Homo sapiens: one gene and its partners. The protein of the gene in region 2 interacts with the protein of the main gene of each other region in a biochemical or structural test. Each region holds a gene or a part of one and is shown on either strand. Other genes may lie near its edges. The genes, in order: DYRK1B, HDAC5, SIK2 and PKN2.

Region 1 (6,337 bases), on a different chromosome or scaffold from region 2:
ACCACTTACCTGGAACCCCGGGAAAATCTTTTTGTCTCAGAATCTCAAAACTCTTTGTTTCGCGATGATTCCAAAGAGCTGGACAGTACACGTGGGGACAGAGTCTGTACCTATTGTCTGCCTGTTCCCCAGATGGCACCAACAAAGCCTCCTAAGTGTACTCAGCTGCTACTGGACGCCTGCTTGGCATGAGGAGCCACTCTTGTGCTAAGTCTGCGGACGCCCCGGCTTATTAGGGCACCTGTTTCCCAGAGACAGGCCAGAGCTGAACCTTTACCCTTTCAGGGTCTATTTACCCAGGAAAAGGCAAATGTAGGCCAGGATCCTGTCCACGATCTATCTAGAATGCTGATGCCCCAGACCTGCAGACTCATGCCTGCAACACGCGCCACAGCTTCCCCACGAGACGTCTCCACACCAGAGCTCCTCCAGCACCCCCTCCGCAAACCCCCTTCCCCACCATGCCTCTGAGGGTCGGGTGAGGGGAGCCGAGGCCCTGCAAACGCTCAGGCAGGCATGTGAGAAAGCTCTTTACTGGGGGTACAGCGAGGAGGAGCAAGGCCATCTCCCCCTACCTGCCCCCACCCCCTCCTAGGGTCCTGGGGTGAGGGGGGGTCTTCCCTCCACCGGACCACCACTGTCTTTGGTACAATAAATAGAAAAAAAGGGGGAGAGGGGCCCAAGGGTCCAGTCCTTAGTGGGGAGGGAGCGGCCAAAACCCTCTCCTTGACCCCCCTGCCCCAGGCCCCAATCAGTGCAGGCCTCACCCACCCCAGCTGGGTAGCAGCAATTCCAGTCAAGGAGAGAGATGAGGATGGGAGCCCAGGGCCCCCAGATGGGGGAGGGTATGGCTTCAGGAGGGGCCCCAGGGAGGGGGCAGGGTCACGAGCTGGCTGCTGTGCTCTGGGGTACACCACGGAGGCCCAGGTGAGGCCCCAGAGTGGCAGGGTCATCAGGAGGCGGGAGGGGTGGACGACCTCCAGTCATCCGAGTCCGGAGGGCTGAGGCAGCCGGGTGCTGGGGGGCAGGCGCTGGGTGAGGTGGGGAGCAGTCAGCAGGGCCGCCCACCAGGCTCACATCCATCAGCTCCGGGGGTGGTGGTGAGGTTGGTGATGGGGGACGACCAAGGTATCGGGGCTGGGGGGGTAACTGGGCCCCGGTCCCAGGCAGTGACGAGGCAGAGGCAGGGGCTTGATGTGTCTTGTGGGGCACATCACCCCCTGCCCAGGGCCGCAGCGGCTGGGAGGGTGGGACCTAAAAAAGCAAAGGAGCCATGGGTGATGGAGACCCTGGTCTCTAAGCCCCAGGCACCACCACCCACCTCCAAAGCCCCCAAAGCCCCATTACCTGGGGGCTGTTCATCTCACAGTCTGTGATAGGGGGCCCAGGGCCCCCACAATATCGGTTGCTGTAGCGGTAGGTCCGGTTGTCACTGGAGGAGCCACTGGAGCCTCCTGGAAGTGCCAGGGAGGAGAGGTGAAGGGGCATAAGGTGAGAGAAGGTGGCGAGTGGGTTTTGGGATGGCTGAGGGAAGGTCACGGCCCAGGCTCAGGTTCAGGCTTCAAGAGCAGAGCCCATCTGAAGCACCGGGCCCAATTCTGAGATTCTGGGTTGGAATTCAGTTTTGGGTTTTAGAGTCAGAACCAGTTTCAGGGCTCTGAGCCCAATTTCAGTGATTGTGTCAGGGCCAGTTGGAGCTCTCCCATCCCACACGTCATCTTACAGTTCAGGATCAGTTTCGGCGCTTTGTGTGAAGACCCAGTAACCAGGTCCCCCAGGACAGGCCAAACCTGAGCAGCCCCCACCCGTTGTACCCCATTTGGGCACCTGGGCACCCACCAGAACTGGAGATGGAGCTGGCGGTGCTGGAAGAGGGGCAGGTGTCGAGGGGCGCGGGCGAGGTGGAGGCACTGCTGCCTGCCGGGCCCGTGTTGGTGGCCTCGTCGGCCGTGCGGCGGAAGAAGCCGTGCTGCAGAGCCCCCAGGGGGCTGATGCGGGCGGCGGGCTCATACTCCAGCATGCGCAGCACCAGGTCCTGGAAGCGGAGGTAGTCGGCGGGGCTGTGGCCCGGCTCCCCCGCCCGCCGGCCCCCGGGCCCGCCCGTCTGCACGCCCAGCACCTCCTGCAGCCGCCGTGTCCCGGGGCCCTGGTAATCCTGGCAGGGAGGGGGTGGGAGGGGGGGCAAGAGAGTGGCCGTCAGTGGGCAGGAGGGGCAGGGAGACACACACGGGGAAACAGAGGCACAAGAGAGAAAGTGGAAAGAAAAGCTAAGAAGAGTTGTGGGGTGGGAAGGAGAGATGGGAGATGGGGTGGGCAGGGGAGGAAGGAAAGGACAGACAAGGGGGAGTGGAAGGAAGGGAAAGACACAAGGGAGAGGGAGCAGGGGGAGAGAGCCCCAAGTGTGAGTGAGGGGCCACGGGGTGGGAGGAGTGGCATGGGGCAGGGGCCGCACCTTCCTGAGTTCTTTCGTCCTTCGTAGGGTCCAGCCACCCCCAGGCAGCCGTTCAAAGTACTTGCGAGCCTTGGGCGCCTGGTCCAGCATGGCGGCCGGTGGGATGCCCAGCACCTCCACAATGCGGTTCATCTGGTCGACCTGTGAGCAGGCAGGGGTCAAGGTCATCAGGCCAGCCAGGCTCCACCCCCTCCACCTCCAGCACACCCCTTCCTGGGGGCACACCTCATTGGAGCCACTGAAGAGGGGCTCTCCGGTGTGCATCTCCACAAGGATGCAGCCCAGGGACCACATGTCAATGGCCAGGTCGTAGGGTGTGCCCAGGAGCACCTCAGGTGAGCGGTAGAAGCGGCTCTGGATATACTGGTAGATCTGGGAAAAGGGTAATCGTCAAGGGACCCAGCCTCCCCTACTGGTCCCACTGACACCCCCAAAGCTAAGAGGACCCAACTGAGGACAGGCTTCTTGCTGACAAAATGGGGACTGAGGCTCCAAATCCTGCCATTATCAGCACCAATTTTCTGGGAGCCACTGGTGCCATCTTGTTTATCAATCTGGGGAGTCTGCTGGCCTAGACAGACCCTGATCTCCACCCCCAACCCGGATCCTGGGCCCTTCTGGGTCACCAGGCAGAGGCTGACATTCCATAAGCCCTATACCATCGTCACTTTTAGTGGCAGCTCATACAGAGCTGCAAAGTTGAAGCCTTCCACCTCCATCCTCAGCTTTAAGAACAGAGAAGACAAAAACTTAGCGAGGCAGCACCCCTGGCTCAAACCCAACCCAACTTCACCCTGTTCACATCTGGCAGCTTCAAAATGGGCCCTGCCCCTCAGGCTTCACCCTTCCCATCCTAGTGGGCAGTATATTCACACCCCCACCCCAAGCATTATCCCTCAGTTCCCACGGCTCCTAATAATCCCATCCCAGCCAAGCCCCGCCCCTAAGCCTCCCGTTGGCTCTGCCCCACCCAAACTACTAGCCGTGCTCCCAGGACCGGGCCGCCCCCTACCCTCTGGCCAAGCTGGCAGGAGCTGCCGAAGTCCACAATCTTGATGGCGCTGCGCTTGGGGTTGCACAGCAAGATGTTTTCGGGCTTGAGGTCGCAGTGAATGATGCTGAGCTCAGGCGTGGCCAGAAAGAGCAGTGCCGTGCAGAGCTGCTGCGCCAGCTTCCGGGTCAGGTTCAGCGAGACGCCGCGGAAGTGGGTGTTGCGCAGGAGGTCGTACAGGTTGTAGGACAGCAGCTCAAATACCAGGCACAGGTGGTTCCGGAACATGAAGTGCCGCTTCAGGTGTACTGCGGGGGAGGGGAGGAAATGGGCCAGAGAAGAAACGGCTCAGAGAGGGCAGGTGGTGGCCTGGGGTCATACAACGCTCTTTGATTACTAGCCACATTGTGCTGTCCCCACGGGTACCATCTGCTAGTCAAAATCTTTTTATCTAACAACTAGATTCACACAGGAAGTTAATGCTCTTTCCAAGTCTCTGTCAAACCCTCCAATTAAACCAAAGAGAAAGTTTCATTAGTTACTACTAGCTCTAACACATTCTACACTTCCTCATTTAATTTCATAACACTGCTTTCATCTCCCTTGTATTCATTTTTGTGGCAAAGGACACTGGTTTTCCGTTTACTTTAAGGATATACGTTTTCCTTTCAAACGAAACCATTTTAAAATCCACTTGCTGTTTATGATTATGTTGTGATGTTTATGTCCATGAGCAGGAATCAGTTTAAGGGAGGAGAAAGACTGGCACAGATGTTAAGAGTAACAGCTCTGGAGTCCACGACCTCATCAAATTATAGCTCAATTAGTACAAACTGCCACCTCATGCAAGTGACAGCACTTGAATGCCTGAGTTTCTTTTTTCCTTTCTTCGTTTTTTTTTGTTGTTGTTGTAACTGTTGTTGTTGTTATTAGGTTTGGTTTTTTGTTTGTTTTGGGTTTTTTTTTTTTTGAGATGGAGTCTCGCTCTGTCATCAGGCTGGAGTGCAGTGGCGTGGTCCCAGCTCACTGTAACCTCCGCCTCCCAGGTTCAAGCGATTCTCCTGCCTCAGCCTCCTGAGTAGCTGGGACTACAGGCGCGCACCACCACATCAAGCTAATTTTTTCACATTTTTAGTAGAGACGGGGTTTCACCATGTTGGCCAGGATGGTCTCGATCTCTTGATATCATGATCCGCCCACCTCGGCCTCCAAAAGTGCTGGGATTACAGGCGTGAGCCACTGTGCCCAGCCCGTTTTGTTTGTTTTATTGAAGAAGAAACTAGGATGGAAGCCCAGGTTTCTTATCTTCAAGATGTTGTTAATAATGCCCTTCCCCTTATGGGCTGTGGTGAGTTAACTTCCAAGTGCTTCCAAGAGAGCCTGGCCCTTGGTGAGCACTCAGTAACCTCTGACCATTACCAAGAAAATAGGACAAAAATCATAAAAGCAGCAGGAGAATCACTGATGTCAGAGAAGCACAGACCAAACCCTGCTCTGAAGACATCAGCCTCCTCCTGAGAGTAGGGCGGGGGTGTGACCCATCCCTACTGGCTCCAGCTCCCGCTATCCCAGGTGCCCACAGCCCTGCCAGTCCCAGGCCTCACCTATATAGTACTTCATCTCCGTGTCATGCTGGTTCATCAGCTCCAGCAGCCGCAGCTCAATCTGGGCCTGGTTCAGGAAAGCCTTTTTGTTCTTGATGATCTTGATGGCCACAAGCTCCTGGGTCTGATGATCATAGGCTTTCACCACCTGTTGGGGCAGGGCATGTCACGAAGAAAGGGGTGGGAGCAGGGCAGAGCCAGGCACCATTCTTCTCCCTCCAGGCAAGGAGACCCACCAAGAACACTATGCATACTTCGCAGCTGAGTGCGCACCATTAGTCAGGCGCTGGTGTAAACACTGGATGTGAAATAACATAACGACCTTATGTTGAGTCTTGTTATTTAAACTGTTTTACAGAAAAGGCGACTGAGGCACAGGGAAACTAAGTGGGCTAGGGTGAGTGGCCCAGCATGGGACTTGAAGCCACTGAACCACTGGGTGTGTGATCAATGTTAGTGGGGCCTTGGATCAGGGTGGTGGGGGGTGTCCCACACCTGGCCAAAGGAGCCTTTGCCAATGAGCGAGTCAATTTCGTAGCGCTCCAGCCAGCGCTCGCCACTGCGCACGATGTAGTCATGGTTGTCGTCATCATAACCATGGTTCAGGACCTTCTTCTCCTTCTTGTTGCTCGAATCCTGGGGTGGCGCCTGCTGGGCCCGCCGCTTCTTCTTCGCATAGTATACCTGCCCAGCCAGCCAGCCAGGAGATGGGGACTGGTGAGTGACTCATGCCAGCAGACAAGACCCTCGGCACCCAGCCCAGGATCCCCCAGCCCCTGCCCACCTCATTGATGTGCTTGTAGGTCTTGATGAGGTCCACAGAGAGCTTACGCAGCGGGGCTGAGGTTGCATCCCGGAAGGCCAGGGGCAGCCTCCGAGGCAGTAGCCGCACATCAGGCAATACCTGCAGGGCAGGGTGAGGGGTGGGCACTGAGGACGTGCCTTCACCTCCGACCTCAAGAGGAAGAACTGTAAGGGCTGCTGGCACATCATGTATTTGGTTGCTGTCTGTATTTGTTCCACCTGTCTAGGAAAGAAACTCCCCCAGGGCTGAGACTTTCTCTTGTTCTTACTATACCTCCAGTGCCTACAGCAGGGCCTGGCACACAATGGATGCTCTTAGAGATCTGTGGTGTGAATGAGTGAACTCTGACCTTTCACCCCTCACCTTTACTCCTTTCTGAACCTCAGAGGGAGAGATCATATGGAAAACCTGGGCTCTGTTCCTCCCCATTCTTCACTTTGAAGCCAGCCATTTTGGGTACCCTCTGAAGTACCTCTATCTCAATT
Region 2 (7,024 bases):
CGAACTTCTGCACACAGCTCCAGTGTTTGCCTGTGGACGAGAGACAGGCAAGGGGTCAGGGAGGGCAGAGGACACCCACATGAACAGTCCCAGTCCTGGTGCTCCCACAAGCTCCGTGCCCCCTTGGCAGCCTGAGCCCCTCTACGTGTCCTCACGCACTCTGGATCTCGATGACTTTCTCTAGCGTGGCCACTGCGTTGATGTTGGGCTTTTGCTGCAAGACTGCCTCATCCAAGGGCTGCAGCTGGCAGGGGAAAGAAGAGAAGGCTTAGGGTGGGGAGTAGGGTTGCCATGCATACCCCTCTAACTGCCCCACTCAGCCCCAGATATCCCTCACAACAGGGGCAAACATGGCCTTTTTGGACAAACGCATACTCAGAAAGCCTGGCCATTAGCTGTTCCTTAGGACCAAGGAAAAGCTTCCTAAGGGGCTCCCAGTGCTGGCTGACCCCTTGCTGGCCCCTCAGACCTCTGGCCTGCCACCTCCCAGCTCCTTCCCACCCCTTACCTCTACACTGAGCAGAGCCGAGACACAAGCCTCAGAGGCATCACAGATGGCGGTCAAGTCATGGCCTCCCTCCAGGGCCAGCACCACCCGGCCCCCTGCCAGGGTCATCAGCTGCCTGGTCAAGTGGCCAAAACCTTTGAGGATGGGTGAAGGGAGGAAGAAGAAATGGCGAAAGGTAATCAATCAATTCAAGAGCCAGTAAGAGGAGAGAAAAAAGGCCAGGCGCGGTGGCTCACGCCTGTAATCCCAGCACTTTGGGAGGCCAAGGCGGGCAGATCACAAGGTCAGGAGTTCGAGACCAGCCTGACCAACATGGTGAAACCCCGTCTCTACTAAAAATACAATAATTAGCCGGCCATGGTGGCACGCGCCTGTAATCCCAGCTACTTGGGAGGCTGAGGCAGGAGGATGGCATGAACCCAGGAGGCGGAGGTTGCAGTGAGCCGAGATCACGCCATTGCACTCCAGCCTGGGTGACAGAGTGAGACTCCACCTCAAAAAAAAAAAAAAAAAAAAAGAAAGAAAAGGAGAGAAAAAGAAACACAAGAGGTGGGACAAATAGCACAAAATGTGATGGGAGATATAAACCCAAATATATCCATAATAAAATACAGCATCAGTGAACTAAATGCCCTATCACAGTCAAAACATTAACAGACTGGCTGAAGACTCCAATCCAATGACAAGGAGCATCACTGAAACACCAGGGACCAACAAGCCCATCTCTACAGCTCCGGCAGGATACATCCTCTATCCTCTGCTACCCCACTGCCACCTCCTATCCCCTCAAGGCCGGGGTTGGCAGAGGACAAGTTGGGGGAGTTACCAAGATGATTCCAAGTCTAGGCCCTGCCCCCTGCTTTCCCCGTCTGCTGCAATATCAGTCTGTTCCCTGCCCCATGCCTCACTGGACTCGATATCCTCACTGTTTCACTTCCTCCCTCAATCCCCCAGCAGGCTTACATCTGGCGGTGACAGAGTAGCCACCCAGAGGAGACAGATGTCCTTCAACAGCATCAAACCCGGCGGAGACTAGGACCACATCAGGTGAGAACTCGTGGGCAATGGGCATCACCACTGTCCTGCAAAGGGATGGCTCAAGCTGAGCCCGGCAGATGACCAGGCCAGGCCTCGCCCCACTGTTATCCTCCCAGAGACAACCCCCTCTACCCACACTGAACTGAGTGCCTTCTGCCCCTCCCACTGCAGGGCCCAGAGGGGCTCCCACTGACTACCATGGCCCTTTTCAGTCCCTACCTGAAGGCTGTAAGGTACTCCACGTCTCCAATGGGGGGGTCCACACCTCCTGTCCATGCCACGTTCACATTGTACCCCACGCCTGGTCCTCCACCAACCTGGCACCAGAGTTGGGGAGAGGGCTATTCTCACCACCTGGGAGTCCCAAACATTGCCCCTGCCCTCACCCCTGCCTCCAGATCTCACTCCACTGACCTCTGCTCTGCCTGGAGGGGCAGTCAGATCAGTGTGGTCCTCCCACTAGGAGCCCAGACTCCCCAGGTACCAACACCACCATGGGCCTCCGTGGCTCCCCGCCAGGTCCCATTGTGCCACCTCCCAGAGGGGCCAGGAGGGTCTGCATTTACGCCCAGGAGCTGTACCTCTTCAGGAGCCCCAGAGCCTGGAAAGAAGTTCCCGTTGTCATAGCGATGCAGAGAGATGTAGAGCACAGAGGGGTCATTGTAGAACGCCTGCTGGGTGCCATTGCCATGGTGAATGTCCTATGAGGGGAGGTAGAAGCATCGGGAAAATGGCCCGCGCTCTGACCCAATGGTCAAATTCCACCTGTCAGCTGAGCACTGTAGCTCATGCCTGTAATCCTAGCATTTTGGGAGGCTGAGGGCTGGGAGGATCGCTTGAGCCCAGGACTCCACCCTTGGCCACAGGGCATCCATATTCTGTTCACAATGGTATTGCACACCCCACACTTCTCTAACTAGGTCTGAGCCTCTGTGGGGTGGCACTGTGTAGGTGATATTCAAAACCATGGGATAAATGTGGCATATCTCCCTACAGAACCCATTCCACCTCACAGTTTTGGGGAAAACATTAAGGCTAGTAGGGAATTTAAAACAGGCAGATGAGATTCTTTCTTTTTTTTTTTTGAGACCAAGTTTCACTCTTGTTGCCCAGGCTAGAGTGCAGTGGCACGATCTGGGCTCACTGCAACCTCCACCTCCCGGGTTCAAGCGATTCTCCTGCCTCAGCCTCCCGAGTAGCTGGGATTACAGGCGCCCACCACTATGCCCGGCCAATTTTTTTTGTATTTTTAGTAGAGATGGGGTTTCACCATGTTGGCCAGGCTGGTCTCAAACTCCTGACCTCAGGTGATCCACCCACCTCGGCCTCTCAAAGTGCTGGGATTACAGGCATGAGTCACTGTACCCGGCCTTTTTTGTTTTCCTTTTTCTTTTCTTTCTTTTTTTTTTTTTTTTGAGACAGAATCTCACTCTGTCATCGAGGCTGGAGTGCAGTGGCATGATCTTGACTCACTGCAACCTCCACTTCCCAGGTTCAAGGAATTCTCCTGCCTCAGCCTCCCCAATAGGTGGGATTACAGGCTCCCGCCACCACACCTAACTAATTTTTTTGAATTTTCAGTGGAGACAGGGTTTCACCATGTTGGCCATCCTGGTCTCGAACTCCTGACCCCAAGTGATTCACCCACCTTGGCCTCCCAAAATGCTGGGATTACAGGCTTTGAGCCATTGTGCCCAACCACAAGCACGTAAGATTCTGAAGGAGGATCCAACATTTACATGAATTTTTAAGCCAGAATTGGGCTTCCAAGAGATTTTGTCCTTCCTGAGGCTTGGTCCTGGCTACTTCCCCAGCTCACAGAGAGTGGTGTGTGCCTCTGCCTCCACCATTAGGAGCAGGGTTTGGGAAGCACCCATGGTAGCAAGAGCAGAGTGCTGGGGCCAAAAGCCTTGGTCTGAAACCCAGTGCCGACATCCCCAGCTGAGTGGCCTTGGGTAAGTCACGCAACAACACCTTTGTTCACAGAAATGGACATCCTCGTTCTTACTACTCGAGGTGGCCATAAAGTACTCATTGTGTTCCTGGTATACAGTCTGCTCCTAATTGTAGGGGGTGGGAGGAAATATCGGCTACTAGCAATGGCGGCAGCGTCACTACCGTTCAAGGTAGGAAATCCCCTTCGTTGCTTGAAACTGCAACGTGAGGGCCAAGATGGAACAGGAGCTAAATGTCTTTCATAGTTGAGGAGGGAGCCCTGTTGGAATGTGACGTTAGTCATCCGGCAGGAGCCCCAGCGCCCTTCCTTCTGCACCCACACCCAGCACCCGAGGATGAGGACGACTGGGGTGCTTGAAGGTGGGGCTGGGGGAGGAGACTTCCTGAAGGCTGACCCTGGTCCTAGCTCTACCCGCCCCTGCCCAGCCCCACCAGCTCACTGCCTACCCAGTCCACGATGAGGACCTTGCCCACGTTCAACTTCTGCTGTAGGAGTTTTGCGGTGATGGCTACAGAGTTGAAGAAGCAGAATCCCCTGAGGAGGGGAGAAAAGGGCAGGAGGTCAGCCTCAGCATGACGTTTGCAAGAGACAGGAAGGGGCGAGGGCAGAGAATCTAGGGCACTCACATGGCTGTGGATTCCTCGGCGTGGTGTCCTGGGGGCCGGATGATGGCAAATCCATTCTGAAGAGGTGCAGGCAGAGGTGAGGGGCAAGATCCAGGCAGGAAGGCCGTGGAGGGGGTAGCACAGGACAGAAGCACAAGCCAGGCAGGGAAGTGAACACAAACCAGAAAAGCAGATCCATATGTTTAATGCACAATTTTGTTGGGGTTTCTTTGTTTTTTTATGGGTTTTTTTGGAGACAGAGTCTTGCTTTGTCACCCAGGCTGGAGTGCAGTGGCGCGATCATGGCTCACTACAACCTTGGCCTCCCAGGCTCAGACAATCCTTCCACCTCAGTCTCCTGAATAGCTAGGACTACAAGCACACGCCACCACACCTGGTTAATTTTTTGTAGAGACAGCGTTTTACTATGTTGCCCAGGCTGGTCTCGAACTCCTGGGCTCAAGCTATCTGCCCACCTCGGCCTCCCAAAGTGTTGAGATTACAGGTATGAGCCACTGTGCCCAGCCTCAACGGACCATTTTGAATGCCAACCATGAGGCTTGAGCAGGCAGACACTATTTCTGCCTCGAGACACCCACGAGAGCACTGGGCATTAGTGTCTTTTTGTTGGTCCCTCATAACCTGAATTCCCAGCTGGCAACTCCTTCCCACCCTGGTGCCTGAGAGTTGAGCTTGCAAAGGACAGTGCCTCACTGAAAGGATCCCAAGGCTGCCCCTGTCCTCTGCCTCTGAGGAGCAGGGCCATGCCAAGGGGCACCGAGGTCACAAGCACACGCTCACCTTGAGCTCTCCTGCAGCCACCTTGAAGGCCAGCTCCAGCAGGCAGCCCACTGCCATGCGCACAGCACTGGAGGAGTGCATCTCATTCCACACGGTGTCACTGTCCACCTGCAGGGCAGGAGAGCAGGTTTCAGTGTGCCCCCTGCAGGGCAAGAACAGGGGAGGGCACCTGGACAGTGGGCCAGCGGCTGTGGTAGGCAGGGAAGAGACAGACCTAGGAGAGCCGCCCGCCCACCCCCACTGCTGTACGCCCTACTCACCCCGATGCCCCCACAAGGCAGCACAGCATACATCTTCTGGCTGATGGGGCCTGCATGGAAGAGGAATAGAGCTACTCTAGAAGTGGCCTCGGGCGGATCACCTGAGGTCAGGAGTTCGAGACCAGCCTGGACAACATGATGAAACCCCATCTCTACTAAAAATACAAAACTTAGCTGGGCGTGGTGGCACACACCTGTAAACCCAGCTACTCAATAGGCTCAGGCAAGAGAGTTGCTTGAGCCTGGGGAGACAGAGGTCGCAGTGAGCTGAGATCGCACCACTGTACTCCAGCCTGGCCAACAGAGCAAGACTGTCTCAAAAAAAAAAAAGGCACCTCAACTGCCACAGGGCTACAGGCTTAGCCACCAAAAATGAGGGCTCAGACCCAAGTACAAGACAGGCCTCTGCAGCCCACACCAGTTGGAAGCTGTCAGTCCTCTGTCCTTGGGGACGTCTTACCTCTGGGGGCAGGTGGCAGGGAGAGAGGAGCATGATAAGCCGTGGAGGAGGGGAACAAAGCAGTCCCCCCAACCGAGCACTTCCATCCTCCTGCACCGCGCCCCACAGCATGCTCTATTTTAGTGGCGCCCTCTGGAGGTGTGTGACGTGATAATTGTGCCACCTCTGCCGCAGCAATGCCCTATGCCCGTGGGGACAACCCTCCTAGCCTGGTCAGGCAGTCTTCCTGAGAGCCCCCATCCCACCCTGACACTGAACATGCCTGCCCGCCCACCCATGTGCCAGCTCACCGAGCAACTTCTTGCTGTCTAGCTTCTGCCGGTTGAGGGGACTGGTCCCATAGAGCAGGGTGTGGTATTCAGAGTGCACTGTCTGGATCTCATCTAGCGTGGCTTTGCGACCTCGGATCCGCTGCCAGGAGGATCAGTAAGAGGGGTCACACAAAGGCACAGCTCTCTCAGAGCCTCTCTGCCCCATAGCCAGGGCACACAGAGCCACTTCCTGGCCTCAGGAGATCCAAATATTTTCAGAAAGTAGATCCTGGCTCTGTCATGACCTTACTCCCGGATCCCCCCCACTCAGCTGGGGACCATGGGGGAAAACAGGCTGCAAGGGATGGAACGGGGTGGTGGGAGAACTGGCCCCGAAGTCTGGGGCTGAAGAGAGGATGAGGAAGAAGCATGAAGAGAGGCTTATCTAACAGGGAAACAAAGGCTGGATTTAAGTTGAGAGCCAGAAGAAGGAGGGGCTCCCTTACCTCGCACTTGCTAAGCAGGCCTGTCTCCTGCAGCCGGGACCAGATGCTCTGGATCCGGCCAGCATGCTCAGGGTGCACGTGTGTGTTCCCGCACATGCACTGGTGCTTTAGCATGAACGTGTCGTAGACCACACCTGGGCCACAGACCTATGTGTCAGCCAGCACTGCTCTGGGCCCAGGATCCCAGCCTGGCTACCATGATCCTCAGCAGGGCTCATGGAGCTGTCTCCAACCCCCAGGTCCAAACACCTCCCCATGGCCACTGCAGCCACCCTGCCACAAACCTGCCCCCTCTCCTCTCCAGCTTTTTTTTTTTTTTCTTTGAAACAGGGTCTCACTCTGTCACCCAGGCTGGAGTGGAGTGTGTAGTGGTGCTATCATGGCTCACTGCAGCCTCAACCACTGCCCCCACCACCCTGGGCTCAAGCGATCCTCCCACCTCAGCGTTCTGAGTAGCTGGGACTATAGGCACTACCACACCTAGCTTTTCTTTTGTTTTTTTTTGAGACAGAGTCTCGCTCTGTCGGCCAGGTCCAGTGGCACGATCTCGGCTCACTGCAACCTCTGCCTCCTGGGCTCAAGCAATTCTCCTGCCTCAGCCTCCCGAGTAGCTGGGATTACAGGCATGTGCCACCACG
Region 3 (7,245 bases), on a different chromosome or scaffold from region 2:
TACTGTAGTATGTTCTGCCATGAAAACTGAATTTAAAACAAAAGTTTTAATTAAACATCTTATAGTTTTTAAGGTAGTTGTATTTATCAAAAACACACAAACATTTATCCAGTGAATGAACGAATAAGGATAAATAACTGCTGTAAAAAACATCATTAACAATGGAATTGTTACTCCCATGGAATACTTTAAGAAACAATTGGGCCAGGCGCGGTGGCTCACGCCTGTAATCCCAGCACTTTGTGGGGCCAAGGCGTGTGGATCACTTGAGGTCAGGAGTTCGAAACCAGCCTGGCCAACACTGTGAAACCCCGTCTCTACTAAAAACACACAAATTAGCCGGGCATGGTGGTGAGCGCCTGTAATCCCAGCTACTTGGGAGGGTGAGGCAGGAGAATCGCTCGAACCCAGGAGGCAGAGGTTGCAGTGAGCCGAGATCGCACCACTGCACTCCAGCCAGCCTGGGCAACAAGAGCGAGGCTCCGTCTCAAAAAAAAAAAAAAAAAATTCAGAGCAACTTTACAACCTAGAGATCCAGAGAACTTTTCTGTTCAAAGATTGCTTTGACATTTCACTTATCCCTCTCTACCTTAATATCTCCAATCACACCCACCAAATTACCACAGATACCCTCACCCATCTCAAATTCACACTATTTCTTTTTATATGTTAATAACAGCTTCTTTAGAAAAGCACAGGGAAATGGGTTCTGCGGACTAAACATTTAGCTTTTAACGTAAATCATTTTACACATATATACTACACACACGATTTAGGATCTAAGTCCTCTTTCACGATCTGACCGGTGCTTGTTCCAATTACAAATGAATGCATTGATCTCACTCTGATAGCCAAACCACGGTATTACTCCATAGTGCCCCCTAGCTCTTTAAGATATATTAGTTTAAAACGGACACCATTTGAATTGTCAACCTCAAAGTGTCAATCACTCCACTTAAGCAGCTCTTACTGTATTAACTAAATTTGACCTGATAAATAATAGATGACTTAATTAAATCTTGCTATTAATCCCAGTAAGAGCTGATGAGAAAAAAATATTAAGAACTGATGGATTTGGAATTCAACCACACGATATACTACAGTTCAAAAGTTTTGTAGAACCTCTCTATAACTCACAATTTGTTTGTTTTTAGAAAGTCATTAAGCAAGGACTCATAAAACATGCATTTAAAATGCCTTCTTTTATGTAACTTAAAGGGAAATGGCATGGCATAGGCCATGGCTCTTCAGAGGAATGGAACCAATTTCTTCATTTTAAAAAATGCTGGGATCAGATTAAGATTTAACAATATCACTATAGTCAAGTTATCATTATCATTACAAACAATCTAAATTGCTAACTGGTAAATCTGTGAGAAGAAAATATCTGACCTTGGTCCTGATTCTAAAAGATAAGTCAGATTTGGACTGGTTCAGGACCAGCAGGGGAAGGCAAAAAGTAAAGAAGACAGAATGACATATACCCCTTCCTTTTGGAAACGGGATTAAGCAAAACTTCTAAGTACAACTGCAACTCCAAAAATCACTCACGTTTGCAAGTGCCCTTCGCCTTACATAAGTCATTCTGAAAAGAAGTCCTACTTTATTCTACACTCAAACTCCAGTACATTCGTACTAACAAGGGAAAAAGCAGAATAGGACCAAAACTGGAGGGCAAACAAACAGGAAAAGGATGAAACTCCAGGAGGAACTACAATAAGGCAGAGTAGAGTACGTCAAAACCACTAGGTTTTATTCTAAAGAATGGTTTTGTTTCTACCGTTCTTCTAAGGTATTTAATTTGCACGTCTTAAAATAGAGACCCTGAGGAGAGCAGCTTGAGGCAGTGGAAGGAAGGGGGGCGGGTTAGGTAAGAACAGAGACTTGTGAGAGAGTATGTGCGGTGCATTAGAATGTGCAATGAAGAGGGTGCAGGATTCACCGTCAGGAAGCAGTTGAGGGCTTTATGAGTAGAGGCAGAATCTGATATGGTTTAAAGAATGCGTATTACAGCCAGAATGCACACCTGGTACAGTGACAACCCTAGACAAGTAGAAGACCAATCCACCCACCGTGCAAATGCAGAGATGACCATTTTAACCAGTTCTATTGTCTGGGGCATTAAATGGAAATGCCCCAGGCAAGAGATCAAGCTAGCCAGACACCAAATCAGAGACACCCTGGGCCAAAAGGAAGGAGAGGAGATGGACAGTGGCCGTGGGGGTATTCCCAGCCATGGGGCCCTTCCTCGTCGGGCAGGGGAGGGGCGCCGGGGTCACGGGGGCCGCACGATCCCCCATCCGCGGAGCCCAAGCGCAGGCGGTCCCCTCCTCGGGCCGGCGACGTCTCTCACGGCGCAGCCTGGGAACACCGAGACTTCCCCTCCCACCCCACCCCCAGCCGAAAGCAGGGAAGACGCGGAACTTGGGCTCCGGAGCGGAGGCCACAGACCAGGTCACGGCCCGGGTGGGGGGCTCTGGGCGAAATTCCGGGTGGCCACCGGGGGTGGCGTAGGGGAAAGCAAAGCCCCGGCTGGTTGCGTTTCCAGTCGGACGACACTCGGGTCCGGGTGCCCGGGCCCGATCCCTTCGCTGCTCACCGACCCCCTGCACCTCCTGGGTCCTCACAGTCCCAGGCCCGCTCGCCTCCGCCAGTGAGGCGGCCTCTCGGGTCTCCCCGGTCCCACCACTGCGGCCGCCCCTCTCGGTAAGCAGCTCCTCTCCCGAACCCTCGCCTCGGACGCTCCCGCCGAGCCCCGGGCCGCACCTCCGTCTTGGTGATCCGGTGCCGCCCCAGCTTCACCACAGCGAAGTTGCCCTTGCCCAGCGTGCCCTCGATGTCGTAGAACCCCACCCGGACCGGCCCGCGCTGCAAGTGCCTCGGGCCATCCGCCATGACCATGCTGGGCCCCGCTGCTAGACACGGCGGACAGGAGCGCGGGCGGGCGGGAGGGTTGGCAGCGCGGCTTGGCTTGGGCGACGGCCGCTCCGCTTGCTCCTTCGCTCCTTCGCTCCTTCCCTCCCGCTCCCCAGGGCCCAGCCAGGCGCGCGCCGCCGCTGACGTGCGCCGACGTCAGGGGGCCGGGGCAGGGGGGCGGGGGCGGGCCCGAGCCTGGATTGGTCACCATGGCGACCGAAGCACCGCCGACGTCGGCTGCTGGAGAGTGGGGGACGGCGCACGGGGAGGGGCGCGAGCCTGGCCGGCGCGCTCCTTCCGGGCTCAGACGCCCTCCCCTCGCCCCTCCGCCTCACCGCTGCCAGGGGCGGGGTCGCTGCTCGGCCCGCTCCGTTCCTCGGCCTTCCAGGCGAAGGGCAAGAGCGAGCCCTGGCGGACCGTGCGGAGGGGTGCAGAGACCTGGATGCGGCCTGCGATCTCCTTCCCCGCCCCGGCGTTCTCCGCCCACCCGGGGTCCTTCCCGCCAAAACCTCTCACCTACAAGTACAGCGCGTCCTAAATTTGGCACCGGCAAAGAACTGTGGCTGAGCAATGCGTTGCTCACAGGCTCCTTTCTTTGTGTCCTTTTCTCTTCTCGTTGCTATATATAATAAAACCCTCCACGTTTTGATGTCTCCGAGGAGTCATTCTGACAGCAGTGCAGTCGCTTATAGACTCACAGAATGTCAATGTCAGCGCTGAAGAGATCTTGGAGATCACTTAATCCAGAGATTTGGAGCCTCATGTGAGCTTCAGAGTTTGGAACCCCCTAAAACACAGGCCAGTTTTTGCTTATGTGAGCATGTCTCTGGGGAGATGGACCCGTAGCTTCTGTCAGATTCCCAAACGCGTTGGTGACTCTGAAAAAGTTTAGAAATATTTCTCTAATCCAATTTTTTTCCCCAAAGGACGAAGAAGACCTCAAGGAATAAAGGGAATTGCCTAGGTCACACAGGCAATAGTCGAGGTAGGATTATAAATCACACCACGCTTCCAAATGTGACTCAAGGAAACAGGGACAGTGACACCTCACTATTTTGAGATGTATCATATGCCTTTATATCTTGGTTTCTAAATACCATTCTCCACCTAAAGGAGCCAGACTCCGTGGCGAGATGGCTCATTCGAGGGCAGAGACAGGGAAAGTATAAAATGCCCTTGAAAGATCCTGCTCCTTAAAGCAAGGAGATTTCTTGGCTATGTCAAGGAAGATATGTCAAAAGAAAGCAGATGGCTCGAAGGTGCTCCCCCCTTACCAAATCTGAGACAGTTTGAGTATCAGGAATAAATAATGGGCCGGGCTTAGTGGCTTACGCCTGTAATCCCAGCACTTTGGGAGGCTGAGGCGGGTGGATCACCTGAGGTCAGGAGTTCAAGACTAGCCTGTGTGAAACCCCATCTCTACTAAAAATGCAAAAATTAGCCGGGCGTGGTAGTGGGCGCCTATAATCCCAGCTACTCGGGAGGCTGAGGCAGGGAGAATTGCTTGAACCAGGGAAGCAGAGGTTGCAGTGAGCCGAGATCGTGCCACTGCACTCCAGCCTGGGCGACAGAGCGAGACTCTGTCTCAGTAAATAAATAAATAAATAAATAAATATAGAAATTGATTCTAACACATTGAATTTTTTAAAAGAATCGTAGAGCATACTTACTTTTAAACAGAAAAATAAAGAGGGGAGAAGTGAAATGACGGTGGAATGCCAACTAATATATGTTAGAAGAAATGACAATTAGCAAATCATTTGGCAGCCATTACAGTAATAATGGATTCAGACAATTATCAATAGATGTTAAAATCATTGAATAAAATTTGGCTGGGGAACAAGATATTTGCACAGTCTTTGGATTTCTTATTCATGATAAAGGGTTAACAAGGGTACCTCTACAGTGGAGAAATCTGACCGACACTACCCTAACCAAATGATCAAAGTTAATGTCACCAATTATGTGATAAAATGACATGATGTGCCTCCAGATGTGAGGCACTGAGGTTACAATATCTCTTAAGTAGTATTCCTGTCAAAAATGCATATTATGATCTAGAAACATCAGAAAGATGCAAACTAAGAAACATTCTACTCAACAACTGACCTGTATCCTTAAAAAACATCAGTGTCATGAAAGTCAAAGAAAGGCTGAGGAACCATTCTAGATTTAAGGGATTTAAAAAGGCATGGCACTAAAGGCAACATGTGGTCTTGAAAAAACATGCTATAAAGGAATATTTCAGAACAACTACTGAAATTTGAATATGGATTACATATTAGATAAGATACTGTTTCAGTGTTAAACTTCTTGAATTTTATAATTGTACTGTGATTATAAGAGAGAGTATCCGTTATTAGGAGATACACACTAAACAATTAGGTATAAAATTTTTGGCCGGGCGTGGTGGCTCACACCTGTAATCCCAACACTTTGGCAGGCCGAGGTGGGCATATCACTTGAGGTCAGGAGTTCAAGACCAGCCTGGGTGGTGGTGCGCCTGTAATCCTAGCTACTCTGGAGGCTGAGGTGGGAGAATCGCTTGAACCTGGGAGGCGGAGGTTGCAGTGAGCCAAGATCATACCACTGCACTCTAGCCTGGGTGACAGAGTGAGACTCTAACAAAAAACAACAAAAAAAAACCTTTTGATATATGCAACTTACTGTCAAGTAGTTTAGCACAGATAGATAAGGCAAATGTGGCAAAGTTTTAAATTGATAAAATAGGTAAAAGGTAGGTAAAAGGGTATGTGGTAGATCGTTGTACTGTTCTTGCAACTTTTCTGTAGTTTTAATTTTTTAATGAAAATTAATATATTGTGTATTATTTTATTTTAAAATTTATATATATATATTTTTTAGTGCAAGATGGCTTTTGGGCCCTCCACTGCTCCCTGTGCTTCTGCTTTTCACTCTCCCCAAGCAATACCTTATTCTACCATGAGGTATGTTGTTTGCAAAAGTGAGGGGAGAAATGGGGGAAAGCTGTAAGGCTGATCAGATTTCTGAATTGATGGGAGTGGTGTATGAGTGGTCCTCTAACTAGTGAGAGGTATTCTAATTAGGCTAGGAACCTACATATGTATACCAGTTCAAAAATAGTTCCCATGTGCATTTTGCCACTTAGATGATTGTATTTTTTTTTTTTTTTGAGGTGGAGTCTTGCTCTGTCGCCAGGCTGGAGTGCAGTGGCATGATCTCAGCTCACTGCAACCTCTGCCTCCTGGGTTCAAGCGATTCCCCTGCCTCAGCCTCCCAAGTAGCTGGGATTACAGGCACGTAGCACCATGCCTGGCTAATTTTTTGTATTTTACTACAGACGGGGTTTCACCATGTTGGCCAAGATGGTTTCGATCTCCTGACCTTGTGATCTGCCCGCCTTGGCCTCCCAAAGTGGTGAGATTACAGGCGTGAGCCACCGCGCCCAGCCAGATGATTGTATTTTAATTGTTCTGGGGGTGGGTTCCTTTGGGAATCTGATGAAAAGCCACTTAACCAAGAACCAGAAAATACGCAGGGAGACCCACTACAGTGAACAACCTCATCCTTTAAAGTATACCTGTTGAATGGAAATGGATTCATTTGAGTATTTAAATTAGATAACCAGGCCAAACACCTACTTGCACAGTCTGGGAATAAGAATTGATTTGGGGCTGGAAAGAAGAAAAAGGGAGGACAGAGAGTACCAAAAGGTTTTGGAAAGCTGGAGTTAGTGTGAGCATGCTGGGTGTCTACAAGTTAGAGAACAGGAGGCCAGAAAGAGGGAAGAGACAGAAGGGGCTGTGCCAAAAATCAGCCTTACTCATGTGGAAATGCAGTGGGCGTGCTACTCAGCGTTACTGGTAGGCTGTAAATGAAACCCTGAAGAAATACATATATGTGGACTAATTTAGAATACTGCAATCTTGGATTCTGTGATTCAACTCTTTCCTTAATCCAAAAGACCTACTCATCCCTGTCCTATTTCAACCCTGCCTGTCTCTTATGTATTTTTGTTTCCAATTAAATGATAGCTGTATACATTTTAGCAATTATTAATATTATCCAACTCCTGCTTTCCTTTTCTCTTCCTCTCTCCCTCTTTCTCCTCTTCTTTCTCTTTCCCTACACACACACACACACACACACACACCATCCTCAGGAAAAAAGAATAAAGATAAGAGGGAAAAGGAGAAGAAAGAGAGCTTCATACAATCCCCATCTTTCTTTTCCGTCTCTGGTTTTAGTATCAGTGAGGGAAAGCACTCTAGTCACCAAATTCCTTTTTGCTTGAGCTTTCAGATGCAGCATTCCCAGCTGATGCTGTGGGTCTATGATATTTAGCAT
Region 4 (7,605 bases), on a different chromosome or scaffold from region 2:
CCAAAGTTTACATAGTTTATTAATGCTTCCTTGTTGAATAAGCCTCCTGAATTACTAACAATACTTAAAAACATTACTCCATGCTATTACAGTAATTAACAAGACAGAATACTGTAGTTTCAGATTTTCTTACTTTGCCTTTCCATGACCAAAAGCCAATTCCAGCTCAAGCAGTGGAGTATTTCAAATTCTACAATTTGAAAAAATAATGAAAAGCTGGATATATTTCTAAATAAATATCAATTTTATTAAAGCCAGGTTGTAATATGTAACTTTCAGAGTAAACAAGTATTCCTGAGACAGGATACATAGCAAAGTAACAGTTTTAACCATTAAATACATCTTAAAACTGGCTACAAAACTTCTTAAATACTTAAAATCTGTATGGCAGAGAAGAATTAAGAACTTCATATTAAACAGTATTTCAGTCTAAATTCAAACAATTTAGAAGCTTTTTAAAAAAGTGAATCTTGAAACAAAAGTTTAATAAATACTTGGTTGCTGTACACTAAGTTTCAGGACCCAATGAAATAAAAAGTCTGAATAGATGGAAATATTTGGAGAAGCAAACTTTATGACTATTTATCTTTAAGTGTTGATATAAGTAATAGTCGCAAACATTTTAATAAACACGATAAAGTTTAAATGCAATAACTTTTATCAAAACTGGGAGTCAAATAAACCAAGAAAATGACTTGGATATATGACAACCTATAAGGTAACACTTAATAAAAACTATTCTTTTTCTGGAAGGGGTTATATTTCAGTTTATCTAGAAGCTTAACTTTAGGTATTCCTCTATTTTGGTCGTATTTCTAGGTCATCATATTTAAAATTTCTTCCTTCTTTGCTTGCTTCCTTGTTATTATCAAAATTGATCTTATTAATTAAAAGATCCTAAATGTTATTAATACACATGAAAATATATTTTCAGTTCCAGTGCCAAAGTAGGTGTCTTTTATGCCAACTTTCTATAACATACAAGTACCAATGCCAAATATATTGTAACTCTAACACTGCTCAATTCAAAAGAAAAGTGACCCTATCATCTTTCTCAATCAAAACCAAAGTATGTTTTTCATGGTTCAAGACCAGGCAATGTAAAGTATTTCTGACTTGCCTCACATCATCTTCATTTTAAAAGCTCATGTAAATTATTTACTATTAATAAAATAGTAAATTCCATTCATTTAGCAAATGTGGTATGCTGTAAGATCTGCTTATAAAAGGCTAACTGTAATTAAAATACTACATAGCAACATTTTCAATTATATGAAATTCAGCTTTGCATTACCAAAGGATTCTAAATGTGCAACACTGCATTGATATACATTGTTAAAGTCTCTATTTTTGTGGAGGAAATATCAACCATTATACCAAAGTTTTCAAGCTTACGTCTGACTGCACAAGAAACCAAACTTATAAAGAGATTTCTTAAAAAGTATATTTAAACAAGAAATTTAGATGCAGTTGCAATACTTAATTTTGACATCAACTCTTCAGAATTTCTTGATTTAGTCTTTTTTTTAAAAAAAATTAACTGTCCAACACACAAAAAGAAATGCAGGCATGCTATTTTTTTCTCCTAATTCCCATCTACAATCTTTGAGTAGCTAAAAGATAACTATATTAAAATAAAGCAAAATAACTTTTAAGTCAAAAAACAAACATCTCTGGAACACTCCCAAGTAATGAAAAACCCGACAGGGTAGCTTAAGTCCCCATGTACACCATAGAGATCTAAAGAAAATCGTGCCTACATTATCAAATATTTATCTGGAAATGGGAAATAACATTGCTACTCGACATGACTTAACTAAGCGATCTACTTTGCTCTCATCTTTTGCAGACATGTGGTGCCCAATGTTTTCCCTTAGTCGACTGCTTTCTCATTAGTAAACAACTTATTAGCTCTTTCTCTGGTGCTCAAATGAGAGGGAAAATGAAAGTCTGAAAAGCATCAGCATCTGAGCTCCCGGATCTGGGCAGGGGTAGCAGAGAAAGGCACCCTGTATTTATCACTCGGTTAAAAAAAAAAAAAGAAAGGAAAAGAAAAGAAAAAGATAACCCTCAAAATAGAGGAAAGAAACTCTGTCACCTGAAGAGGGCTGCTGAAGTGAAGCAAACATTTGGTGAGACTCGTTTTTTAAAAAAACTTGTCTAGGGGCTGGAAGTTATGGGGGCGCTCTTTGTGCGGAGTCTGAGGGGAGGGGGAGGGACAAGAAAACAGCTTGGGAGTCATTCAAAGGAGTTTAAGGAGCGGTGTACGGAGGAAAGGCGGGGCGGGGCCCGGCCGCGCGAAGGGAGGGGGCAACAGGGGCGTTCGCGGGTAGCTCTGACACCGAGGGAGGGGGCGACGGGCCGGCCTCTCCGGGGACCAGGCGAGAGCAGGCTCCCGCTGCAGCAGGGCTGCAGAGATGGGGTCCCCTCTGGTAGGCAGAATCAAACCAAAGCGGTGGCAGGCCAGGGCTTTGGCGGGGGAGAGGGTCCGGCTCCCCAGGGAAGCGGTTCCCCGAGGGAAGCATTTCCCGAGTGACATCCCGGAGTTTCCGCACTTAGCGGGCTAGGGGCGCGGCGGCCGCAGGGCTTTCCTCGGTCCCCGACGCCGCGCGGGGCTCTCTCCCTGTCTCCTCCGCCAGCGCCTCTCACCAGGGCCGCGGCCCTTACCTGCAGTTCCGTGAGCAGAATCTCCCCCCGTTCGGGGTTGGACGCCATTGCGCTCCGGTATGGACTCCGCACCTGGACGCGGCCGCCTCTGGCGAAGGGAGAAGGCGGGACGGGGCTCGGGGTGGGGGTGAGGAGAGGGGAGAGAAAGAAAAAAAAAAAAACAACTAGGGATTCATGGAGGCGCAGCCCCTGCTGGAGGCGCGGCTTATTCCGTCCGGTTCATCGAGAGCGGCGGGGAGCTAGGGCACTCGTAGCGGGCTTCCTCTCGCCGCCCTCACCGGACTGTTCGTCTAGTCGCTCCCTCTGGGCGACGCCAGGAGCCGCCTCAAGCCTCTCCGTGCGGGCGCTGCGGCCGCGGCTGCAGCTCCTCCTGTCGCACCATTTGGCTGTCACCGCGTCGCAAAAGCGGCCTCACTTGGCGGCTGCCAGCACACGTGACGGCGGCAGCCACTGCCCCTCATCGGGCAGGGAAGGTGGGGCGGAGGGGTTCCCTAGGGCGAACGCGGCGAGGGGGCGGGGCGTCTTCCGACCCGACTCCGCGGCGAGGGCAGCCATTGGACTCGGCTGGGGTGAAAATGAGGGGAAAGGACTGGGCTCGAGTCTCTGGGGAGGCGGGAAGAGGAAGAAAACACACGCCTACTTTCCTGCTGCGTTTAACGGCTTCACTGTGAACGCTAGAACTCGGGAGCCTGCTCGCTGTTGTTTTTTCGGGTTTCGTTTTTTTTTTCTTTCTTTTTTTTTTTTCCCAGTTCCACCTTGCCGAAACTTGGGCCTAACTTTAACAGGCCCTTTTCTAACCTCCATAACCCAAAGAGCTTCGGGACTCAGATCTTACAGATTATTCCTCTGCTCTCCCCTTGACCCCCACGTCAACCCAAACTAATAATCTTGCCTTTTGCTCACCCTCAAACCCAGCCCCCAGCGCGCCTTCTCGACCAGTTAAGGTGCACAGCTAGCTAAACGGGTATGGTCTGTACTTTTCATGAAATGTAAGCGGCTGGATCCCTGGCAACTTTTAATGTACGGCCTTTAAGATGTCTTTTTCTTGAGGTTGAACTACTGTTGCTTGTACTGGAGAACTGTACAGAGCTGAGAATTAGCTGGGTTTTTTTGGGTTGTTTTAACTTTATTTAAGGGAGGGGGAGGTGGGACGGGATTACCCTCGGGAAAGGAAAAAAGCCACCTTTCCTTGGCGTGGTAAGCATTAAAGCTAACCTGACTACTTAGTAAAATATAGCTAAGTAAAGTAAATCTAGGTGTTTGTTTTTAATGACACTATGGTATTAAGGAATTTCGAAGTCTCCTACAGGTAGCTTTTGTTTTTGTTTTGTCTGAGCAGTGAATGGATAGGTAAACGCGTAACTTTTGATTTTTTGAAGCTGCGGTACAATACCTTTGTTAAAACTACCTGGAGAGAGTGGTAAGGGTTATTTAGGTACGTTGCTACTTAGAAAGGGCATTCGTTGACATATTTCTTAGGAAGTGTAACATTATGTACTTCTCACACGCTCCATGTAACTCTGTTGGCCTGATGCCAGGACTTAACGTCTATCCTTTTGCCTTCTCAAGTCTCATACATCAATTCAGCAAACATGTATTGAAGATCTGGAGTTCTGTGGCCACAGTTTCTGAACTCTAACTTATCATATGTGTGATAAAGAATTTTTCTGGTGTGTACTTCACAAGTCTTACAACTATTTATGTGTCTAGTATATTGCCTTGGTTGAAGATGATAATTAAATACATGAAAGAACACTTGGAAAGGCCGGGATATGATTACCTTTACTGGTAACTAAAAGCCAGATGGTTTCCTAGGCTTTGGAGTTACAGAAAGGATTAGGAGTTCTTATCCGGCCAGGCGCAGTGGTTCACGCCTTTAATCCCAGCACTTTGGAAGGCCAAGGCTGGCCGATCATCTGAGGTCGGGAGTTCGAGACCAGCCTGGCCAACTTGGTGAAACTGTCTCTACTAAGAATACAAAAACTAGCTGGGCGTGGTGGTGTGCGCCTGTAATCCCAGCTACTCGGGAGGCTGAGGCAGGGGAATTGCTTGAACCCAGGAGGTAGAGGTTGCAGTAAGAGTGAGACACTGCCTCAAAAAAAAAAAAAAAAAGGTACTTATCCTTGGGGTGACTGGAGAATTCTTTGGGGAAGCCAACTTATGTCCGAACAACAATAATGCCATTTTAAGTAATAGATACAGTGTTAGGGGAGCACTGCATGCATTTGTGTGTGTGTGTGTATAATGTTTTATTATGGTAAAATGCATAATCAAATTTATTATAACCATAAGTGTACAATTCAGGGGCATTGAATGCACACAGATTTATTTATTTATTTATTTTTGAGACAGAGTCTCGCTGTGTCACCAGGCTGGAGTGCAGTGGTGCCATCTCAGCTCACTGCAACCTCCGCCTCCCAGGTTCAAGTGATTCTCCTGCCCCAGCCTCCTGAGTAGCTGGGACCACAGGCGCATGCCAACACTCCTGGCTAACTTTTGTATTTTTAGTAGAGACGGGTTTCACCATGTTGGCCAGGTTGGTATCGATCTTTTGACCTCGTGACCCTCCTGCCTCGGCCTCCCAGAGTGCTGGGATTACAGGTGTGAGCCACCGTGCCTGGCGTACAAATTTATTTTTGTCAAGGCTTACTGCAGAATGGATTTGAGATGGCTGACATGCACATAGAAGGTGATTAATAATGGTGGAACTAAGAGTTAACTGTGCAAGGGCTTAGAAATACAGTCAATGAGCAGTCTTTGTAAAAATTAATTTAGATATAAATGTTCACATTTCAGCATCATGTAATTTTAGAACTAGAAGTGACTTGAAATATCTAGCTTAACTCCTATTGTAGGTAGGAAAAAAAATTAATAGTTTCCTTAGCTAATTAGAAGCAAGACAGCAGTATTACTTAGTGGCAGAGATGGGGACTATTACCTAAGTCTCCTAATTGCCATCCATGCTTGTTTTAACCTTCACCATGCCACTATAATAACTTTAAATTGATATTAAACTGAAAGCATTAAATTTTTACCGTAGAAAAAGACTTTAAATGTTACACACTTCTAATGTTAAAAGTGTTAATAATTAAAAAAAATTTTTTTGAGACAGTCTCGCTCTTTTGCCCAGGCTTGACTGCAGTGGCATGATCATAGCTCACTGCAACCTCAAATTCCTGGGCACAAGGGATCCTCCTGACTCATCCTTCAAAACAGCTGGGACTATAGGTGCACACCACTGTTGATAAGGAATATTAATTTTACATTTCACATGTAAATTTAAGCAACAAATATACAAAGTTTTTAAAGTTAAGGAATTATTTCTGAGATTAGCTGTGCTAGGGAAAGTAGTACAAAAGGGAGGCCAACAATATTAAAACTACTTGATAATCTAAAATATGTGATGATTTAAACAGCAAATTAGTTTCATTTAAGCTAAAATTTACTACCCAGGTCACATTCTCTGTTCAGGGGGAAAAAAACGTAATAGGACATGGATCATACTTATCAGACTGAAGCACACTTGAAAAAGTTTTAATGGAAACATATCAGGTTGATTCAGATGGGTTGTATTGGGCCCCTATTTACAAATGTGTTTAGAGAATCTTAAATATAGTTCAGAAGTAATTTACATTAACAATAAAAAAAAAAGAAGAGTTTTTTTAGTGTCCATTTAAGAGGGCAAAGTCCTTAAAAATATCTGGATTGTATCACTAGTTATGCTGGTACCTTTTTAAATTTTTCATAAATATTTTAAAGGTCTTTAAGAAGTAGAAATGACCAAAAATCTAGAAATAAATAGAAAGTGTTATCTTTTTTTCTTAAAGATGGGATGTTACAGGAAAAATTCTAGAAAAGCTAACAACTTTTTTTTTTTTTCATTTTCTGTGCTTTTGAAACAGATATTCAGATAATATGGGCCCTCTTTTTCCTTAAATTTCAAGTGAAATGAGACAGGAACCATATGTCCAGGGAAAGGGCCAGAAATCTTTATTTTGTGAGTCACATTTTTATTGCCTTCCGTTGTTTATTTCCCTTTTGCTTGTCCTTAATATTTGTAAACTGTTCAATTCAAACGTGTCCCTACAGTATGATGGAGAATCAATACAAGAGTTTTGTTTTGTTTTGTTTTCCTTTCGTTGTTGTTGTTTTCCATGTTAGAAGAAAAAGCCCACCCCTACTTCCAAAAGATTAGAATGAAGTAGCAGTGGTAATCAAAGTAAGAGTGCCTAAGGAAAGGCAAAACTCCAGAGGTCAGAGTAAGAATTACTTGGTCACCACCCTCTTCTTCCTTAAGAAACCCCCTTGTAGAAATCATTCTCTTGTATGCGCTCTGAAGATAATTTTGAGCACAGGGTTCTTGATTAAGAACACAGAAGAGTAGTCAACTATAGTGACTACAGTAGCTGCTTTTTAGAATGTCAGCTCAGTCCACATCCACTTGACTGAAAATTCCTCCTATACACAGAGATATCTCTGAAGCCATGTTGACTCTGCTTAACATAGCTCTTCCAGTAAACTATGATTAGATCACTGATAGACCATATCCAGGTTTAGCCAATCAGATTTTCCCTCTAAGACTTTGGAAACAGATCATTGGAATGCTGATCAATTGGCAGTCTAGAGTGGCAAGGTGTTGTTCTATGGATTGGATAGCCATTTTCTGCCATGTGCACAACAATGCAGAAAAACTTCTCTTTGGAACGAGAAAAGAATTTAATTCTTCCTGTCACTGGGAATATAATGGTTACCAAAGCATACCTGGTCGCTTTTGTCATGGAACTTGTAGTTTGGTAAAACAGGTATAATGATAAGGTAAATTCATAGTACTTTAAACATAGGGCAGACAATCTTTTCCTAAGTACTTCACACTTAAGCTGAGTTCTCATAAGTGTGTAAATGTTAACTGAGGGGGAAAAGGTGTAAAGAGCCTTCCAG

Evidence for each region.
Region 1: of the proteins of HDAC5 (region 2) and DYRK1B, one has a biochemical effect on the other in vitro, tested with the Homo sapiens proteins (one study listed by BioGRID).
Region 3: of the proteins of HDAC5 (region 2) and SIK2, one has a biochemical effect on the other in vitro, tested with the Homo sapiens proteins (2 studies listed by BioGRID).
Region 4: of the proteins of HDAC5 (region 2) and PKN2, one has a biochemical effect on the other in vitro, tested with the Homo sapiens proteins (one study listed by BioGRID).

What each region holds. Positions count from the first base shown.
Region 1 is NC_000019.10:39,824,833-39,831,169, forward strand, and holds the end of DYRK1B (dual specificity tyrosine-phosphorylation-regulated kinase 1B), read right to left. Parts: intron 5,952-6,337; coding exon 5,832-5,951; intron 5,732-5,831; coding exon 5,543-5,731; intron 5,196-5,542; coding exon 5,048-5,195; intron 4,971-5,047; exon of another isoform or gene 4,884-4,970; intron 3,752-4,883; coding exon 3,465-3,751; intron 2,825-3,464; coding exon 2,678-2,824; intron 2,594-2,677; coding exon 2,453-2,593; intron 2,156-2,452; coding exon 1,840-2,155; intron 1,455-1,839; coding exon 1,348-1,454; intron 1,255-1,347; coding exon 883-1,254; 3' UTR 518-882; downstream 1-517.
Region 2 is NC_000017.11:44,078,636-44,085,659, forward strand, and holds part of HDAC5 (histone deacetylase 5), read right to left. Parts: intron 6,521-7,024; coding exon 6,387-6,520; intron 6,041-6,386; coding exon 5,920-6,040; intron 5,220-5,919; coding exon 5,170-5,219; intron 5,018-5,169; coding exon 4,910-5,017; intron 4,186-4,909; coding exon 4,130-4,185; intron 4,038-4,129; coding exon 3,950-4,037; intron 2,248-3,949; coding exon 2,128-2,247; intron 1,864-2,127; coding exon 1,766-1,863; intron 1,591-1,765; coding exon 1,472-1,590; intron 643-1,471; coding exon 509-642; intron 245-508; coding exon 160-244; intron 31-159; coding exon 1-30. UniProt on the Homo sapiens protein: Responsible for the deacetylation of lysine residues on the N-terminal part of the core histones (H2A, H2B, H3 and H4).
Region 3 is NC_000011.10:111,598,220-111,605,464, reverse strand, and holds the start of SIK2 (serine/threonine-protein kinase SIK2), read right to left. Parts: upstream 3,017-7,245; 5' UTR 2,902-3,016; coding exon 2,767-2,901; intron 1-2,766. UniProt on the Homo sapiens protein: Serine/threonine-protein kinase that plays a role in many biological processes such as fatty acid oxidation, autophagy, immune response or glucose metabolism.
Region 4 is NC_000001.11:88,679,691-88,687,295, reverse strand, and holds the start of PKN2 (serine/threonine-protein kinase N2), read right to left. Parts: upstream 3,024-7,605; 5' UTR 2,716-3,023; coding exon 2,668-2,715; intron 2,133-2,667; exon of another isoform or gene 2,092-2,132; intron 1-2,091. UniProt on the Homo sapiens protein: PKC-related serine/threonine-protein kinase and Rho/Rac effector protein that participates in specific signal transduction responses in the cell.